3 separate regions of the Homo sapiens genome follow, and regions 1 and 2 are each linked to region 3. The links come from fine-mapping of genetic effects on gene expression. A gene starts in region 3. Each other region holds a variant in brackets. All regions are shown on one strand. Distances are between the middles of the regions.

Region 1 (2,752 bases), 76 kb before region 3:
CAGCTGCACCTCTGCCCCAGGAAGATCCCATAGGAAAGGGTGAAGGGCTGCTACAGGGCCTTCAACCCAGGCACCTCCTCCATAATGAAACTTGGGCTTTGGAGTTTCCATGTGATGCCATCAAGGGCTTTTTCAGCTCAAATATATGTCTTTCATGATTCAGGATGGCAATAAGAAACTTTGAGCTGGCTGTAGCTACTTACACAATCTCATTTTATCCTGAGAGTGGCCTGCATCTCAGTCACCTCTGTGTCCTTAGCATTTAGCATGATGCCTGGAATACAGTTCTGCTTCTCATTTTGTTTGATGAACAACCCTGAGTCCATTAGAGATGACTCCTTTGGCTCCTGGTTTTAAATTTATTTTCTGTACGTTTATTTATTTATTTATTTATTTATTTATTTTTGAGACAGGGTCTCACTCTGTTACCCAGGTTAGTGCAGTGGCACGATCTTGGCTCACTGTGACCTCTGCCTCCCAGGCTCAAGTGATCCTCCCATCTCAGCCTCCCACTGAATAGCTGGAACCACAGGCACACACTCCTCACTTTCTAAGCTCCAGTCCTAAGTCATATCATTCTCATTGCCATACCTCAAAAGCACCCAAGTCTCAGGCACCTGGACTTTCTACCTAGAAGGTCCACCCCAGTTTGTTTACTGTCCTGATGAACATTCAGCTAAGCCACCATGTCCCCCCAGGATCTCCTGCCTCTGGACAGCCTGTGCTCCCCACTTTCTTAGGCACTGTGCTAGAACTGTTCTACCCCTGACTCTCCAGTTCCTGCCATAGAGGCTGACAAGTCATCAGTGTTCCCGAGGTTGGAATAAATGAATCACAATCTATCTCATGGCTTCGTAGGTCCACCAGAAGAAAGGTTATATGTGGCCGGGCACAGTGGCTCACACCTGTACTCCCAGCACTTTGGGAGGCCAAGGCAGGGGATCACCTGAGGTCAGGAGTTTGAGACTAGCCTGGCCAACATGGTGAAACCCCTTCTCTACTAAAAATACAAAAAATTAGCCAGGCATGGTGGCTCGCACCTGTAATCCCAGCTACTCAGGAGGCTGAGGCAGGAGAATCGCTTGAACTCAGGAGGCAGAGGTTGCAGTGAGGAGAGATTGCACCATTGCACTCCAGCCTAGGCAAAAAGAGCAAAGCTCCGTCTCAAAAAAAAAAAAAAAAGAAGGTTATCTCTGACATGCTGGAAGTACAGCAAAGGCCTTGATCTGTGATGGACATCATGAAGAAAACTTTTCTTTGGTTATCATACCAGTAATGCTGACTTCCTGGGAAGGGAAATACTAATTAAGTGGGTATTAATTCTGTCCTAGACACTTTTAGGGCTCTCTATGTAAGTCTTATTTTACAGATAATGACATCAAAGCTCAGAGGTTAAGTGACTTGCCTAAGGTCATTCATTAAGTCAGAGGCAGAGCCAGGATTTAGAACCCAGGGAGTCACACTCTGCCTGCACTCTTTTTTATATATAT[T/A]TTTTTTTTCCCAAGACAGAGTCTTGCTCTGTCGCCCAGGTTGGAGTGCAATGGTGCGATCTCGGCTCACTGCAACCTCCACTTCCCGGGTTCAAGCAATTCTCCCTGCCTCAGCCTCCCGAGTAGCTGGGATTACAGGCGTCCACCACTGTGCCCAGCTAAATTTTGTATTTTTAGTAGAGACGGGGTTTCACCACGTTGGCCAGGCTGGTCTCAAACTCCTGACCTCAGGTGATCCGCCTGCCTTGGCCTCCCAAAGTGCTGGGATTATAGGCATGAGCCACCGTGCCTGGCCCTTTTTCCTTTGAGACAGAGCCTCGCTCTGTCACCCAGGCTGGAGTGCGGTGGCGTGATCTCCGCTCACTGCAAGCTCCGCCTCCCTGGTTTACACCGTTCTCCTGCCTCAGCCTACCAAGTAGCTGGGACTACAGACGCCCGCCACCACGTCTGGCTAATTTTTTGTATTTTCAGTAGAGACAGGGTTTCACCATGTTAGCCAGGATGGTCTCGATCCCCTGACCTCATGATCTGCCCGCCTTGGCCTCCCAAAGTACTGGGATTACAGGCGTGAGCCACTGCGCCTGGCCCTTTTTTCCTATTTATATAGAGACGGGGCCTTGCCATGTTGTCCGGGCTGGAGTGCAGTGGCATGATCCTGGGTTCCAGCGATCCTCCCACCTCAGCCTCCCAAGTAGCTAGAACCATAGGTGCATGCCACAATGCCACGCTAATTTTTGTATTTTTTTTAGAGACAGGGTCCTCTATGTTGCCCAGGCAGGTCTCACACTCCTGGGCTCAAGTGATCCACCCATCTCAGCCTCCCAAAGTGTTGGGATTACAGGCATGAGCCACCTCACCCAGCTATATTTCTGCATAACTCCATAAGGCAGAACCGGGCCAGCTTTTCACAAACCAAAATTGTTTCAAAGTGGAAAGCTCTCGGCTGGGCGCAGTGGCTCATGCCTGTAATCCCAGCACTTTGGGAGGCCGAGGCAGGCGGATTGCCTGAGCTCAGGAGTTGGAGACCAGCCTGGGCAACATGGTGAAACCCCGTCTCTACTAAAATACAAAAAATTAGCTGGGCATGGCGGTGTGTGCCTGTAATCCCAGCTACTCGGGAGGTTGAGGCAGGAGAACTGCTGGAATCCAGGAGGCAGAGGTTGCAGTGAGCCGAGATAGTGCCACTGCACTCCAGCCTGGGCAACAGAGTGCGACTCCATCTCAAAAAAAAAAAAAAAACAGTAATTCAGGCCAGGTGCAGT
Region 2 (2,752 bases), 21 kb before region 3:
GGTGTGAACCCGGGAGGCGGAGCTTGCAGTGAGCCAAGGTCGTGCCACTGCACTCTAGCCTAGGCGACAGAGCGAGACTCCATCTCAAAAAAACAAACAAAAAAAAAACCCTGTGATTTCTCCCTTGCTTCTGCTTCCCAGTTCACTTCCTTAAAGACTCTTGCCCTTTTGGCTGGGTGCAGTGGCTCACGCCTGTAATCCCAGCACTTTGGGAGGTCAAGGCGGGTGGATCACCTGAGGTCAGGAGTTCGAGACCAGCCTGGCCAACATGGTGAAACCCCGTCTCTACTAAAAATACAAAAATTAGCTGGGTATGGTGGCGGGCGCCTGTAATCCCAGCTACTCCGGAGGCTGAGGCAAGAGAATCGCTTGAACCCGGGAGGCAGAGGTTGCAGTGAGCCGAGATCACGCCATCGCACTCCATCCTGGGGGACGAGCAAGACTTTGTCTCAAAAGAAAAAAAAAAAAGACTCTTGCCCTTTCAAGGCAGCCTTCTCAGTATTGGGCCCTCATCCTAGCCTTCACCCCTTCCTCTTGGTACCAGATACGAAACCAGAGAAGCCAAGCAGGATGGGCACTCAGCCCTGGGTCTGGTGCTCACCTGACCCAGACCCCCCAGCCAGCCCCTGGCCAGACCTGGCTCTGCAGGGGCTGGGCAATGCTAATGGCTCTTCATTTGCTAAAACTGGACTTAGCCTCACTGTGCCTCCCATCCTGAGGCTGCAGTTTGGCAGCCTGACCCTCTGACAGCCCTGAGTGCCAGATGCCCGGGCTGCCTGGCCCGGCCCGCCTGGCTCGGCCCATTCCTTCTGGGCCCTTTTGATTCTGATTATCCTCTTTCAGACACACAAATTAACCAGAGCCAAACGCCACTCCCAGCATGAAGGAGCGGGGGACACTGCCACTTTCTGCATTAGTTCTTGGAGTTGCTAGAAGGTGGAGTCTGCCCCAGCCCTGTGTTTTGGTTTCTGTGGGGCTTGGGGCCAGTTCAAGGCCTATCCCAGCCCAGTTCCAGGCCACCCTCTGGGGACTAATGTCAAGTTCTGCCCTTGTCCAGTGCCGGCACTGTTGGCTGGCAGAACCTAAAACACCAGGCCTCCACATTTCACCCTGCTGGCAGGGGCGGGTGCAGGATTTTCTCCAGATTCTGTCGCCTAGTGTCCAGTGCGCTCTCCTGGCATTTCTATAGAGGCGGCCCAAGCAGCGTTTCCAGCCTTTGTGTAAAAGGCTGGCTGGCTGGAGGAAGGGAAGCCCGTGTCCTTGGGATTTGCCCTACTGAGCAGACAGGGGCCTTGAGCCCAGCCAAGCCTGGAGAGTGGCAGTCTGAGGGTCCCTCAGACTCCTGTCTCCTCCTCATTCAAGGCCCCTCTGTGTATGTGTGAGTGTGTGTGTGTGTGTGTGTGTGTGTGTGTTGTGGGGAGGCGCTGACCTGCTGAATTGGCATCCTCAGACAGTCTTGTGATACTCGCAGCAGCTTTAAGCCAGGAGCAGGGATCGGGCTATTTAGAGCTGTGGCATCTCCTGCTGCCAC[C/G]CCCTGGCTGTCTTAGCCAAGTCCATGCCCTGTTGAGGGGAGAGGCCCAAGAAACTCATCCAGCCCTGTCCCTCCTCATGGGCCTGTGGGGGTGGCAGCATAGAGGTGCTCAGGGAGTGGCGGTGGTGAAATCAACGTGCTTCTTTATTTTTTAAACTAGATAGGCTCATTCTACTGTCTTCTCCAGGGCTCTTCTATGAAACAGTTACAAACCTACGGCCAGGCCAGGCAGTGGCTCACACCTGTAATCCCAGCACTTTGGAATGCTGGGGCAGGAGGATCACTTGAGGTCAGGAGCTCGAGACCAGCCTGGGCAACATAGGGAGACCCCCGCCCCCCCCGCCATCTCTACATAAAATTTAAACATTAGCCAGGTTTGGTGGCCTGTGCCTGTAGTCCCAGCTACTCAGGAGGCTGAGATGGGAGGATCGCTTGAGCCTGGGAGTTCAAAGCTGCAGTGAGCCATGATTGCAACATTGCACTCCAGCCTGGGCGACGGAGCGAGACCCTGTCTCAAAAAATAAAAACCAAAACCTACTGCCAGTTTCCCCAGGGCTTCATGCCTCAGCGCTCCCTTCTTGCTTTGAGAAGGGAAGGGGAGCTCAGGTTCCGGAGCTGGAGGGAGGAGTCCAGGAAGGCCTGGGGTAAAGGAGGGCTTAGGGGCTAAGCTCGGGGTCGGGGCCAAGTGGAGTGACTGCGCTCCTCTGGGGGAAGGAGGCTGGGATGGCCCACGGGAGGACAGAGGGGAACTGAGGGCCCACAAGTGTCCTGCTCCCCAAGTCTCCTGGCAGCAACAGGCTTGCTCCTCATAAGTCACAATGAGGGGTGGGCTGAGGACAAGAGGAGCTGGGGCCATCTCAGGGCCCCAGGGTTGGAGCTCACTGAAGTCACATGAACACCTTTCTGTTCTTCAGGAGGGGCCCAGGCAGCCCTCAGCACCCAGGTGAGACCAGCGCCTGGTGAATGGGCTGAGTGGGCCAAGTGGGTGGGCTGGGGGGCTGGTACTCCCACCACCTGACTCCAGAGGAGGAGAGGGCTCTGCAGGGGATGTGGACTGGCACTCGCAGAACCCCAAGGCGAGTGAGGTGGGCCCTCAGGAGCGCTGGATGCGGATTTGGATGAAGAGCGTGGCTGGTGACAGTGAGGCCCCGTCCTTGGAAAGCAGGTGTATGTGGCGGTACCCTGTAGGGAGGACAGCCAGGCCTCAGGTCCTCTGTGCAC
Region 3 (2,752 bases):
CTTTTCCCAGACTCTGAGAGGGTACCAGGGCCCATGTGGTGGGGCACCACCGGGGTGCCAGTCACACTTTGCCCTTTGTTGGCTGTGTGGTCATAGGCAAATTCCTTGCCGTCTCTGAGTCAGTTTCCTCACTTGTGAAATGAGGATTCACCTCCCACCTAGGAAGTCGAGGAAGATTGCAAGACACCACCTGTGTAACCCACCCAGTGCCAGCTGCCTCTGTGATGTTCCAATGAGCCACAGTTACATTCCTTCTCCACGACTGACTTCCCCAAATCTGAGGTGAGAGCCTTGGCTGTCGGACGTAGGCTGTTAGACCAGTCCTGCCAGAGCAGTGTGGCTGTGGCCGCCTCTGTGGGGCCGCGGCTTGGAGGGCTGCTGTGGAGGCCAGCCTCTTCTGCGGAGGCCGACCGCAAACTCGCATCCTTCCTAAGGGCTGCCAAGACCCCGAGACACCCTGGCAGAACCTAGATACTGCTGGGGAGCCGGACGAGGGACACCCCAAGCCTCCCTCTCCCGCTCCATTCTCCTTGGAGACCCCACCAGCGCCCCGTGCCCGAATTCGCGCTTCAGACGCCCCGCGAGCGCCCCCTGGTGGGAAGCAAAGAACACCCTGGGCGCCCGGCTCGCCCCGGGACCCTCGGATGACCCCAGGTGCGACCCCCAGCTGGAGGGAGCTGGCCCTCCGCCCCTAGCCATAGCCTCCCAGCCCCGTGCAGCCTGGGGAATCCACGAACTGCTCCCTGGAGCGCCCCAGACTGGGCCTCTGGGAACGGTCCGCGCCCACCCCACCGCCCCTTGCCCGTCACTGACCCATCTTCTTCAGCGCCCGCAGCCCGGGCCTCTTGGTGCCGCCATCGGAGGGAGTCGGCGGGGACGGGAGAGCGACCGGCGCCGCGACTTGGGCTGCGACCTGGGCGGCCACCGGGGGCTCCTCGGGCGGGCGGCGGCAACGCCTCCAGCGGCCGCACAGCATGGCTTGGCGGGGGGCCGGGGCCGGGCCCGGGGTCTGCACGCGGGGACAGGGCAGCGGGGCGCCGCTCTGGCCCGGCCCCGGCTCTGAGCGAGGCGGCGAGCGAAGAAACTTAGCGGCGCGGGAGGGAGTCGGAGGAGGCAGCAGGAGGTGGGGCGGGGCGGGGCGGGAAGGGAAGGGGGCGGGGCCGGGGCGGTGCGAGGGCGGGGCCAGGCGGTGGCCTGGAAGCCCGGAGCCTCAGCGCTCGCCCCTGCTCGTGAGTCCGTCTCCCCTTAGTCCGGGCGAGCCTCTGATCTTGGCCGCAAGGGTGACTAGAGCCCCCATGCTGCGGGGCTGGGGGTGGGAGCCGGCACCGGGGACGAGGGCCATCCTCTGGCACAGACACCCTCTCCTTCCCGGGGGCCCTGACTCGAGGCTGACGCAGGACCCCCTCCTCCTTCCCTTCCGCGTCCCCGTCGCGCCGCAGGCCTCAGCAGGGAACCAGAGCCGGGACAGGACGCAGGGCCGGGAGCGAAGGCAGAACCCCGGGAGCTGAGCCGCTCGGGGCAGCGCGAACCCGAAGGGATGGGCATGGGGGTGGGGAGGTTGGCAGTGACGTCATAGGATTAACCTCCCTGTGCCAGGCCAGGTGCTGCCCCCTCGGAGAGCCACAGTCTCGGAGCTGACGGACCTGGGGAGCGTGAGGCGGAGCCGAGCCTGGAGTCCCCAGCAACTGGTTCTGGGTTCGAGGCTTGGACAGGCCGGCACCCCAGCCCGGCACCCGCGGTGTAGTTGTCCGCGACGTCAACCCGTGGGTGGGCATCCGTGTGCAGGTTCTGGTGGCCGAGTCGGGTGTGCACTTACTATTTATATGCAAGCACCAGAGTGCGTGCGCGAAGTGGGGGACGTCCAGGTGGCAGCGTTTCTGCGGCCGGTGGCCTGGGTCCGGCAGAGACATGGGCGCACACCGCCACTTTGCGGCGGCCAGCGGCGTGGCATCCTACAGAGAGGCTAGTGCTCAGGGCCTGATTTGCCACCTACTTGCCCTGCTCTACCCCATCCTCAGATCTCCCAGGCCCAGAGATTCTGCACACTGGCTTGGGTCCCTACGCCACTCTGGGGTCCTGAATTTTCTTTTTTTTTTTTTTTTTTTTTTTTTTTTTGAGACGGAGTCTCGCTCCGTCGCCCAGGCTGGAGTGCAGTGGCGGGATCTCGGCTCACTGCAAGCTCCGCCTCCCGGGTTCACGCCATTCTCCTGCCTCAGCCTCCCAAGTAGCTGGGACTACAGGCGCCCGCCACTACGCCCGGCTAATTTTTTGTATTTTTAGTAGAGACGGGGTTTCACCGTTTTAGCCGGGATGGTCTCGATCTCCTGACCTCGTGATCCGCCCGCCTCGGCCTCCCAAAGTGCTGGGATTACAGGCGTGAGCCACCGCGCCCGGCCCTGAATTTTCTTCTTGATTATCGTATTCGCCTTTGTGCTTTTGATCCTGCCGTTCCTTCCTCCAGAAACAACCTTCCTTATTCTCCTGGTTTACCCTTTTGTTATTCTTGTTGTTGGATAGGCTAAGTCTACATTTCTTTTAATTGTTATGGACACTTAATAGTTGCAGAGAATTATGGAGAGGCATGTAATGTTTTGATACAGGTATAAAATGTGTAATGATCAAATCAAGGTAATTGAAGTAACCATCACCTCAAGCATTTATCATTCCTTTGTATTAGGAACATTCCAATTCCGCTTTTAGTTATTTGTATTTGTATTTTATTTGTTTATTAGAGACAAGGTCTCACTACTTG

Direction of the effects. Positions count from the first base shown, and alleles are read on the strand shown. Sizes are in standard deviations (SD) of each study's normalised expression. Not every link is listed here.
With allele G in place of C in region 2, the expression in skeletal muscle of the gene that starts at base 1,081 in region 3 is higher (moderate effect, 0.44 SD a copy in GTEx).

Evidence for each region. PIP is the estimated chance that this variant, and not a neighbour inherited with it, causes the effect.
Region 1: its variant is fine-mapped to the expression of PLCD3 in nasal epithelium (TOPMed, PIP 0.99).
Region 2: its variant is fine-mapped to the expression of PLCD3 in skeletal muscle (GTEx, PIP above 0.99). The same link has a PIP of 0.9 or more in esophagus muscle, gastroesophageal junction, sigmoid colon, skin, sun-exposed skin and thyroid.

Annotation. Positions count from the first base shown.
Region 1 is chr17:45,054,990-45,057,741 of GRCh38, forward strand. It overlaps a transcript of DCAKD not described here. Among named protein-coding and RNA genes, the nearest start is that of DCAKD, 4.7 kb to the left of the region's middle. The variant T/A (reference allele first, on the strand shown) is at 1,491.
Region 2 is chr17:45,109,992-45,112,743 of GRCh38, forward strand. It overlaps PLCD3 (phospholipase C delta 3), which reads right to left. Exons shown (of 15, transcript NM_133373.5): 15 at 1-2,713. The coding sequence ends at 2,625. Among named protein-coding and RNA genes, the nearest start is that of MIR6784, 3.1 kb to the right of the region's middle. RefSeq lists an enhancer at 1,939-2,752. The variant C/G (reference allele first, on the strand shown) is at 1,532.
Region 3 is chr17:45,131,435-45,134,186 of GRCh38, forward strand. PLCD3 (phospholipase C delta 3) reads right to left here and starts at 1,081. Exons shown (of 15, transcript NM_133373.5): 1 at 814-1,081. The coding sequence starts at 976. It also overlaps a transcript of ACBD4 not described here. RefSeq lists silencers at 885-1,014, 1,115-1,334 and an enhancer at 1,805-1,874.